2 separate regions of the Homo sapiens genome follow, and region 1 is linked to region 2. Evidence: fine-mapped expression QTL. A gene starts in region 2. The other region holds a variant in brackets. All regions are shown on one strand. Distances are from middle to middle.

The links. PIP is the estimated chance that this variant, and not a neighbour inherited with it, causes the effect.
Region 1: its variant is the best candidate, but not a certain one, in a credible set for the expression of CD99L2 in lung (TOPMed, PIP 0.66).

What each region holds. Positions count from the first base shown.
Region 1 is chrX:150,851,455-150,856,832 of GRCh38, reverse strand. The region is part of intron 1 of CD99L2 (CD99 molecule like 2); the gene reads left to right. Among named protein-coding and RNA genes, the nearest start is that of CD99L2, 45 kb to the left of the region's middle. The variant T/A (reference allele first, on the strand shown) is at 3,145.
Region 2 is chrX:150,896,374-150,901,751 of GRCh38, reverse strand. It overlaps CD99L2 (CD99 molecule like 2), which reads left to right and starts at 3,084. Exons shown (of 11, transcript NM_031462.4): 1 at 3,084-3,230. The coding sequence starts at 3,164. RefSeq lists a silencer at 2,800-3,409.

The DNA of each region.
Region 1 (5,378 bases), 45 kb after region 2:
TATCTCACTGAACTTCTTTAGAATCAATGATTTGAATTCTTTTTCTGGGATTTCATGAATTTCTTTTTTATTGGGGTTTCTTTTTGGAGAATTATGGTATTCCTTTGGCGTGTCATACTTCCTTGCATTTTCATGTTTTCTGTGTCTTTACATTGATGTCTGATCTGTTTTCTCTCACTATAGTTTGTTTTCTAGAGTTTTATAGAAATGGGATCACACAGCGTGTAGTCTTTATTATTATTATTATTATTATTATTATTATTTTAGCCTGGCTTCTGTCACTCAGCATAATTATTCTGAGATTCATTCATGTCATTTTGTATGTCCATCATTCATTTCTTTTCCTCTCAGATGAGGAAAGCCTCCTCTGGAACATTTTGGTGTTACTGAAAAATGCTGGGCCAGGTGACTTCATGTAACAAGCATGCTGAGTGCCCAGTCGGCATGTGGTACACCTGGCCTTGCCTTAGGTGCTGTGGCCTCAAGCCTCTCAGACCTCCGTTCTGTAGAGAAGTTAGCCATGAATGGAAGTTAGAATATTCTGTTTGCCAAGAACCACCACAGGAATGTGGTGTGATACACAGGAGGAAATTGTCCTCTGTCTGGTGGGGTGGGCTGAGGCTTCCTAGAGGATATGATGTTCAATTTAGGCAATAACTATCCTTGGGCATAAAATACAAAGAAGGACGCTTCAGACCCAGGAAATGGCAGATGCCAAAGTGTGGGCAAGGTTTGTCCTTCAGGGAATCACCACAGCCAGGGCATACAGAATGTGTGCAGTGGGGAATGATAGGGAAGAATTTAAAAGTGGCAGGTCAGGGCCAGACTGGGGAGGGACTTGTGTGCCAGGCCCATGAATTTGGATTTAAGTGACTGTATGAGTTTCCTGGGGCTGCCATTACAATGTACCACAAATGATGTGATTCAAAACAACAAAGATGCATTCTCCCACAGTTCTGGAGCCTAGAATTCAGAGATCAAGGTGTTAGCAGGGCACAATCCCTCTGATAGCTGTATGGGAGGGTCCTTTCTTGCCCCCGTTAGCTGCTGGTAGCGATCCTTGGTGTTCCTTGGCCTGCAGCTACATCACTTCAATCTCTGCCTCCATGTTCACATGGAGTTCTCCCTTGTGTGCCTCTATCTTTTGCTCTTCTTATAAGGACACCAGTGATATGGTTTGGATTTGTGTCCTCAGTCAAATCTCATGTCTCATTGTGATCCTCAGCATTGGAGGAGGGACCTGGTAAGAGGTGATTTGATCATGGGGACGGATTTCCCCCTCATTGTTCTCATGATAGTGAGTGAGTTATCACGAGATCTCATGGTTTAAAAGTGTGTGGCACTTCCCCCCTCACAGTCTCTCTCCTGCTCCACCATGTGAAGATGTGCCTGCTTCCCCTTTACCTACCACCATGACTGTAAGTTTCCTGAGGCCTCCCCAGCCATGCTTCCTGCATAGCCTATGGAACTGTGAATCAATTTAACCTCTTTTCTTCATAAATTATGTAGTCTCAGGTAGTTCTTTATAGCAAGGCAAGAATGGACTAATACAACCAGCCACACTGGATATGGGACCCACTCCACTCCAGTATGACCTCACCTTAACTCATTACATCTGTAGTGACCCTATTTCCAAATAAAGTCACATTCACAGGTACCAGGTGTTCAGATTTGAACATTTCCTTCTGGGAGACACAGTACAAACCACAGCAATAACCAGTCATGCACCAGTCAGTAGTGATTGTGCATGGCAGCAGGTGTTACTTCCATCTTACATATGGAGAGCACAGAGCAGCAAAGTCACTTCCTCACGATTGCTCAGGTTCCTGGCAGAGAGGCAGATGTCTTCTTTAGGCCATCTGTCTGTTTCCATGGGTCCCCTTTCCTCCCTTATTGTACCAGCTGCAGTGAACCACCGGGGGGAGGGGGGGCAGCAGGCAGCCACAGGGAGCCATGAAGGCTATGTTAGTTTCCTAGAGCTACTGTCATGAAATGCCACATAATCGGGGGCCTCTGCAGCAGGTATGTATAATCTCATGATTCTGGAGGCTGGAAATCTGAGGTCAAGGTGTTGGCAGGGTTGGTTCCTTCTGAGGGTTGTGAGACAGAATCTGTTCCAGGCCGCTCTTCTGAGCTTATCAGTATCCATCTTCTCTCTGTGTCTCTTCACATTGTCTTCTCTCTCTGTGTGCGTCTGTGTTCAAATGCCCAAGATAGCAGTCATAACGAATTAGAGCCCACCCTAATGACTTCATTTTAACTTGATTACCTCTGTTAAGACCCTCTCTCCAAATATGGTCATATTCTAAATTAATAGGAGTTAGGATTTCAATGTATGAATTGGGAGGGGGCACAATTCAGCCCATAACAAAAAGTATAAGGCATCATTCTTTGCCTATGCTAAGGAAAGACTTTGTGGGTTAGCTGCCAACAAGTCCCCAGCCAACCAGCACCCAGGGAATTCCTAAGCAGTTTTGCATCTTGTTATGGGTAGCAATAATTAAATGACCCAAAGTGGAGGCAGACAGAGTAGGCAGGTAAAACAGACAGGATAATTTCAGATTAAATTATTTCAAGAGTGGCTTGCTATTGGGAAAAGCACTTGGTGGGCCGCTTGTTTTACGAGTAGAGCGAAAGTTGAAGTATGCATTCTCTGGGCCCAGGCTCTGGGCTCAGGACTAGGACAAGAAAGAGGACTGGTCTCCTCACTGCCCCATGGGCTCCTGTTATGTGGGGGTTGCAAGAGCCAAGCTGATGATATTACACCTGGTGTTTTGATGGTGTGGAGGGGACACATCAGAGAAGGGCTCCCAAAGGAGGTACATCTTGCCTATCTGACTGTAACTTCATAGCTCATTAGCCATTCTCTGCTACTTGGATTTTTCTCCTCCTTTTTTGTCATATCATACTGGAACATCTCTCAGGCATATCCTTCTCAGGTATGTCTCTGGGATTGGACCTTCATGGTAATAGCAGTGATTGCCAAATGGGGGACTGAACACAGATTTGTTATTACTCTTGAATGGTTTGAACATGGTGCACTGGATTGTTTCAGCTAAATGGGGCTTGCATTGCTGCTTGTGCTGTAGAAAAGGCTTATCACTTCTGAAGTTCGTCTTCCCAAGGGAGTTTCGTTGTGCTTTT[T/A]TATCATTAAAGAGATTATAGTCGCAGACCTGTGCCAACCAGCTGAGTGACCTTGAGAAGACCCCTTCTTGCTAGGTCTATTTTGGCAGAGCTGTAAACTAGGAGAACTGACTGGCCTTGACTGCTGGAAGCTCCTAGGGGAAGGGGAGGACTGTGCACGCTTATCGAACACTATGCTTTACCTGTGCCAGCTCACTGAGTCCTCACAAGAGCCCGATGCAGCAGGGACTGTTTTATCATCTTCATTTTACAGGCAAGGAAACTGAGGTGCCCAGCAGTGAAGTGGGTGGGTGGGGGGTTTGAGGCAGGACTGTCACCCAGATGATCTGATTTTAGCATGTGTGCTCTTTGCTGCCCCACCACCACACAGCATGGATGTCAGAGCAGGTTACAGTGTTCAGAGCTCTTCTTCCTAAATAATTTCCAAATATGTGTGGGTAAAACTTTTCCATTTCTTGGCTTCATCCTATACACGTATCATTTCACTTGCTGGAGTATGTCTAGGTGCACTTACGTGTGTTCTTGTGTCTGTCTGAAGGTGCAAGTCTGGGTGACACGGCCTAAAGTGGCTGTGAATGGTGGGGTAGTAGTCCCCTGTATACCTCCCTGAGGACTGGGAGTCAAGAGGGGTCAGTGATAAGCAGCAGGATCGTGCAGCATGAATGGATTTCAGAAACTTCCGTGGTGATTGCTTATTGTATTTTACTGTCAAAGTAGTCATTCCACTCCTACATATAGACCCAAGAAAACTGAAAACCCGGCTGTACATGTTCACAGAGCACTACTTATAATTATAGCAAAAAGTGAAAGAAAACCCCAAATGACCATCAACTGATGAATGGATGAACAAAATATAGTCTACTCATTCAGTGGACTTTTTTCAGCCATAAGAAGGAAGGAAATTCGGATCTATGCTCCAACATGGATGAAGCTTGAAGACATGCTGAGTGAAAGAAGCCAGTCATGAAAGAGCATGTACTGGATGATTCCATTCATCTGAGGTGACCAGAGCAGGCAAATCTATAGAGACAGAAAGGAGATTAGTGGTTGCTGGGGGCTGGGGGAGGGATGATGAGGAGGATGGACTGTTTAATGAGTCCGGGTTTTCCCTTTGGGGTGATGGAAATGTGGAAAATGATAGGTGATGGTTACACAACATTGTGAATATACTAGAAATCACTGAATTTCACACTTTCAACAAAGCTGTTCAAAAAGGAGTCTGAGGTGCCCAAGCAGAATTTAGTGAAGGGAAGAGATGGGAGGAGTCTTCCGGGCAGAGGGACCCCTGAGGGCCCTGAGGTGGGATAGAGCCTGCTGAAGTTTAGCAACCAAGTGAAGTCCAGAGGTCCAGGGTGTGATGGGGAGCTGTCATCCTGTGCTCAGCCATTGTCCTTACAGGTTTGGAAAACAACCACAGCTCCCCAACTGGCCTCCTACAAACAAGTCTCCACACAACAGAGCGAACTTCTAAAAATGTTGTTTTGGCCAAATGCACTTCTGCAACTCCAGAGTTGGCCCCTTTTAGTGTAAGTTCACCACCCTGGCACACCTTCCTTAACTACCCAGCATAAAGTGGATTTTCACTCTGGAGTAATGATGTGGAGAAGAGTTCTTTCATCCAAGCAGTAGTGAACAATTTAAATGCTTGAAACAGTAAAACAGATGATGGTTATTGGCTGTTGTGGTCAGTAGACTAATGTTCCCTCCCTGCTCAGAGGTCCACATCCTAATCTCTGGGACCTGTGAATATGTGACGTTACATGGCAAACGGGACTTTCAAATAGGGCTAAGTTATGGATCTTAAGATGGGAAATTGTCCTGGATTATCCAAGTGGGCCCAATGTGATCAAAGGGGGCCTGATATGTCAAAGAGGGAGGTAGATGTGATTATAGAAGCAGGGTTTGGAGTGATATACTTTGAAAATGGAGAAAGAGCCATGAGCTAAGTAAGGAATGCAGGTGACCTCCAGAAGCTGGCAAAGGCAAGGAAATGGATTGGAAGCTTCAGAAGGAACACAGCCTGCTGGTGCCCCGGTTTTAACCCAGGGCCACCCATTTTAGACTTCTGATCTCTGGAACTGCAAGGTCATAAAATTGTCCTGTTTTGAGCCACTATGTGGGAATTTGTTATAGCACCAATAGAAAATACAGCTGTCTCATCATAGCACTTTACTTTTAGAGCACCTTAGGGGCAGGCATGTGTGGGGGAATCAGACCTGTCCAGCTGCATGACC
Region 2 (5,378 bases):
TGATGGCAGTTTTCAGGGTATGAGAAGTTCAGGGAGGAACTAGGTGTAGCAAGAGGGTGGGAACAAGGGAGTGGTGTGTAGACGAGGCAGGCTTGGGCAAGAGTGGGTCCCTGAACCCATGTGCATTGGCAGTGGGGAGTATAGATGATGTGTGGGGGCGGGGAGCACAGATAATGGCTTTGAAAAAATTTTTTTAATAATAATTTTTTTTCTCCTGGGAAATACACTTCCAAACTAAGTTGGGGAGGTGCTCCCAGATCATAGTTTTTAAGTGTACAATTTCCTGTATGTAAATCAACTGCATGTTTAATTGCAATTCAGCAGGATAGCAGTACCTGACTGAGAGGCTCACTAAGTTCCCAGCAGGTCTTCAGTCTGGCAGGCAAATCAGCCCTCTCTAACTCACATTAACCTAACTTACAAGAGACTGAGAGACAAACCAGGCCCAAGATAAGCTATTTTACAAAGGGAGAGGTATCTGGTAGGATAATCCATCTCGGACATTTGCAATATTTTGATTAAGGAACTATTTGTGAGTATCTTTTGGCCACAATGATAAACATTGTCCTTTTCTTTTGGTTCTTATTCCTGTGTCAGAGCAGGTCATCTATGTTCATTTTGCGCTTTAGAGGAGCACACTCTTAAGGTCCCATATCATCACCTGCTAATGTTCATCCTTGCCATGGTTCAATCTGCTAGAACGGAGGTCAGTAAACTTTTTCTGTAAGGGTTAGACAGTAAATATTTTAGGCTTTGTGTGCCCCATGGTCTCTATCACAACTGTTCAACTCCACTGTGGCAGCACAAAAGCCACCATAGGGAATACAAAAATCAATGGGCGTGGCTGTGTTCTCATAAACTTCATGAACCCTGAAATTTGAATGTTGTATCACTTTCTCATGTCATAACATTCTTTTGATTTTTTTCAACCATTTAAAAATGCAACCACTACTTTTAGCTGGAAGGCTGAACAAACAGGTGGGAGTAGGATTTAGCCCACGGGGTGTAGTTTGAGAACTATTCTTGAGCTAGAAGACAGTCTTATTGCATATGGCATTGTAGCACCTTTAGCAGCTAGAGTTCCAGTTGAGTGTGACTGTCCACTGCATATTGATTGACATGGCCTCAAACTTAAGAGGTTACATGCTTCTCACCTCCTCAGTGTAGATGAGTGTGTATGCATCAGGGTTTACCCATCAGATCCTGGAAGACTCCTAAAGACCAGAAAATCTACTGCCCTCCAGGTACAGATGGTACCACCAGGGCCTATGGAATGGCTCAGGGCACTTAGTAGCAAAGGTGGGGGCATGTCCACAGCCTGGAATAGACAGTAACCTCCTGACCTCACAGTGGCCACTATTTCCTTAGCCGTTACTAGATTAACCAGTAATGGTCCCTGCCCTCTGTCACTGTGTGCAGGCTGTCCACTTTTCACCACCTCATTTAATCCTTAGCACAACCTTGTTGGGTTTAGCCAGGATTTGTACCCGGTCTGGCTCTACAGCACACATTCTTAGCCATTCACCAGCTGGGGTTCCTAGTGGTACCCTCCCCCTTTGACACATGAGACTAGACCTGGCTAACTCCCCAACCTCAAGGAACCTCCATTTTGCTGCTTTTCCCTCGTTAATAGGTGATGATACATAAGGCATTGTGAGGAATAAAAATTAAGGGTAAAATGCCTGGAATATGCCATGTGTATAGTGTGTGTTCAATAACTACCAGCTATTTCTGTTAATTCTACAGCTAGAATGGAATAATGTTCCATTCATAGAGTAATTAATGCCCTGAGCCTGGGAAGATCCACTCCTCATATGCTGTTTTGTTTCTGCAGCCCTAAGATTCAGGGCAATGGATGTAAGCCACACGGGAGATTTCGGCTCCATCTCAGGGAGACCCCACACCCCACTGTTCCTTAGGGGTTGGTGGGAGCCACTGAGGGGGGTGCCTATGGCAGCGAGGGCTGGGTTGGGGGCACAGGAAAGCTGCCGAATGGATATTGAGGGGAGGTGGTAGTAGCCGCCCTCTAAGGAGGATGTGGCCCTGGGCAGCCGGTGCCGCATAATGGCAGGGACAGGCTCACGCTACCACTCCGGAGAGCAGTAGCGCTTCCTCTTTGTCTTCGAGAGCCGGTTGCAGCTGGGGCTCTTCTAGGGAGCGTTCCCATCAACTGCTGCAGCGGGCATTTTGCTGGTCGGCACAGTATCGTATCGGAATCTGATTTCTTCGGGTCTGGGAGACGGACTCCGTTTGCGGGGGTTCATGGGAAAGGACTGCAGCGCGTTTGTCGGTCATTAAGCACGTTTTTGAGATCGACTCTGCAGATATGAACTTGCACTTTCAGCGCATTCATCAAAGCCTCGGGAGAGCTGACCCAGTCCCTACCCCCAGTCTCCCGAGCCCGCGGCGCTTCGGCTCCGGGACGCCCCCATCCTCCCCTGTCGCCCACCCGGGCGCCCCCGGCCTCGTTTTCTCGAGACGTGTCACTGCTTGTTGACCGCAGCCAGTCACGAAAACGGTCCTTTTCTTCAGTCTCCGGCCAGGGTTTCACTCCTGCAGGGAACAGCGGGTGGGGACAGAGTGCGGGGCTCCGTGCTGGACGGTGTCTGGAGGGGCCCCAAGGGAACAACCCTTCACCGGGAGAACACCAAGGCCAGAAGGGGAAGAGCCCTTCTCAAGGTCACCCGGGAGGAAATCGGCGCCCACCGGCGCTGCCGCCTCCCGCTCCCCGGCACTGGTGACTCACTGCTCCAGGTCCGCGGGGCCACCTCCGAGACTTCGGTCTCGAGGACCGAGGTGGGACAGGGTCTGCGGACCGCGCGCTGCCGCTGGACCCAGCCCAACCCAACCCAGGCCTCCCCACCCACCGGGTGCCCGCAGGCCACGCCCCTCGCCCGGAGCCCCGCCTCCAGAACGCGGCCCCGCCCCCGATACTGCAGCCTCGCCCCGCCCCCCGGCCTAACCCCAGCCCAGGCGCCCTCAGGCGCCGGCTCTCTAGCGCGCCCGACCTCCATCTTCCCGGGGCCGCGCCGCGCGCGCGCGCGGGCTTTGGGCGGGACCCTGCAGAGGCGGCGGGGCTCCTCCTCCCGCTCCTCCTCGGCCTCCCCTTCGGGCGCTCTCGCGCTAACTGTGCTCCTCCGGGGCCCTCCGCCTGCTCCCAGCCATGGTGGCCTGGCGCTCGGCGTTCCTTGTCTGCCTCGCTTTCTCCTTGGCCACCCTGGTCCAGCGAGGTAAGGCGGGCGGGGGGCGCGCGGGGACCGCGCGGGGACCCCGCCTTGTGGGCCCAGGGGTCGCTCTGCGCATGAGCGGCACGGTCCCCGCCTCTCGGGCCTGCGGTGGCTGCCACCGGCCGGCCCGGCTGTGCGAGGCGGAGCGGCGGGGGTCCGAGCCCCGGGCCCGTGGGGGTTGACTCCGCCGCGGTCGGAGTAGCCGGAGAGGAGGGGTGGGTCCCCTCCTGACGCTGGGCTGGAAACAGCGGGATGGGCCCCCTAAAATCCTGAACGAGCAGGTGTACCACTGGTGACAACAGCTGTCCCCAAGAGTTTACCTTTGAGAAAACCTTGAAGAGAGCAGTCATTTTCGAAATTTGCTGCGAGGCCACCGACAGCAGAAGCACCTGGGGAACTTCCTAGGTGGATTCCTAGCCCCTTTCATCGGGATCACAGCGGGCATGGGCTGTGGGGGGGGGGGGGGGGGGTCAGCGAGGCGTAGGTCTAACCAGCTCTCTAGGTGCTTCTGCCGTCCGCTTCAGTTTTTGAGACTTTGGTCATGTTTTGCCAAGGAGCAGGAGAGAGAAATCCCGCTGAATCAAGGAAGCACGTTTCTTAGACCCTCTGCTACTCAAAATGTGGTCCAGGGCCCAGCCGCATAGGCATCACCTGGGAGCTTGTAAGAACTGCAGCATCTCACGCCCCGCCCCCGACCTACTGAGTCTGATTCTGCATTTCAACTAGATCCGCGGGTGATTCTCTGGCACATTCAAGTTTGAGAAGCATCTTAGTAGAATAAATGCAGTCTGTGGTTAAAAATAGGGTCTTAAACATGTACCAACAGAATCTTCTTACACTTATTTATATCCTATGTCCCCATCAGAAAAAGGGATTAAGGGAAACACTGTAATTGAACGTGAATTATGCTCCAAGCTTCCTGACAATAGAAGCGAACCCAGCTGGTGGAAAATATGTGAGCTCAGGAAACACACACACACACACACACACACACACACTTTGTCCTAGTACTGAGTTCTAGTAAGATTTATGTCACATAAAGGAACACTGGAAAACAGTGGATGGTACTAGCCAAGCCACTTTTGCAAAAGATGCAGAAATGTTTTTCATGTGGGCAACCCACCTGGAGTTGATTCACGAAGAGCCATTTAACATTCTGCAGAGGTGCCAGGCTCTGTTCTAGGAACTGATGATGCGGTAGTGAACAAAATTGAGACTGTCTTCATGGAGCTTACATCCTGGTCCGGGCAGAAAACAAGCCCAACATTGAAATCTATATATATTGTCAGTGCTATGGAGAAAAATAAAGGAAGTTACAGGGGTAAAGAGTTGTTGAATTTTCTTTTTCATTTTCCCTTTGGGATAAAATTTTTATTTTGTTTACAATGCATTTGTAGGAAAATGTATGATCATTTGATTGACTTGCATCTAATGACATGGAAATCTTGAAAGTAGAAGCACAAAAAAAGTTAGAAAAATGATACTCCCTTCAAAGCTGTCTTCTGAAAGTCTTCAACATGGTGTGCCCGTTGAGAAGGTGGGGAATAGAAATGATTGGGTCTCAGATTTGCACGTTACAATTGTTGATTTAAGAGGTGGTAGAGGAGACAGAAACAGTACATCTGTTTTATAGATGAGGAAACAGAGGCACAGAGAGGTGAAGTAACTTGCCTTAGGTCACACAGCGATTGCCAGAATTATGATTTGATGCAAGGCTTGTCTGACTGCGCAGTCACTGCCTTTAAGCCCTAGGCATATGCCCTTGCACCTGGAGGTACCCCACTTCGACTACTTAGGGACCATGGGAAAATGAGTTCCCCGAACTTGTTTGATCATCCATATGATGCCTGACAATCACAAAGGTGTTTTGAGGGGACCAGGCTTAGATCTACAGCCTTGCTACCAGCTACCATCTCCTGAGTTCTTCCTGTGTGCCAGGCACTTCACATATATTGCTTTAAATTGCCTCGACAATTTTGCAGGCTAGATATTATCACTGGCTTTCAGATGAGGGGGCCCTGGTCATATAGCTCAGAAGACATAGAGCCAGGATTCAACCCAGATAAGACTGCTACCCAGTTATCTTTTATTGTTTAAATTATTTTTAATTAATTAATTAATTTTTTTGAGACGGAGTCTAGCTCTGTTGCT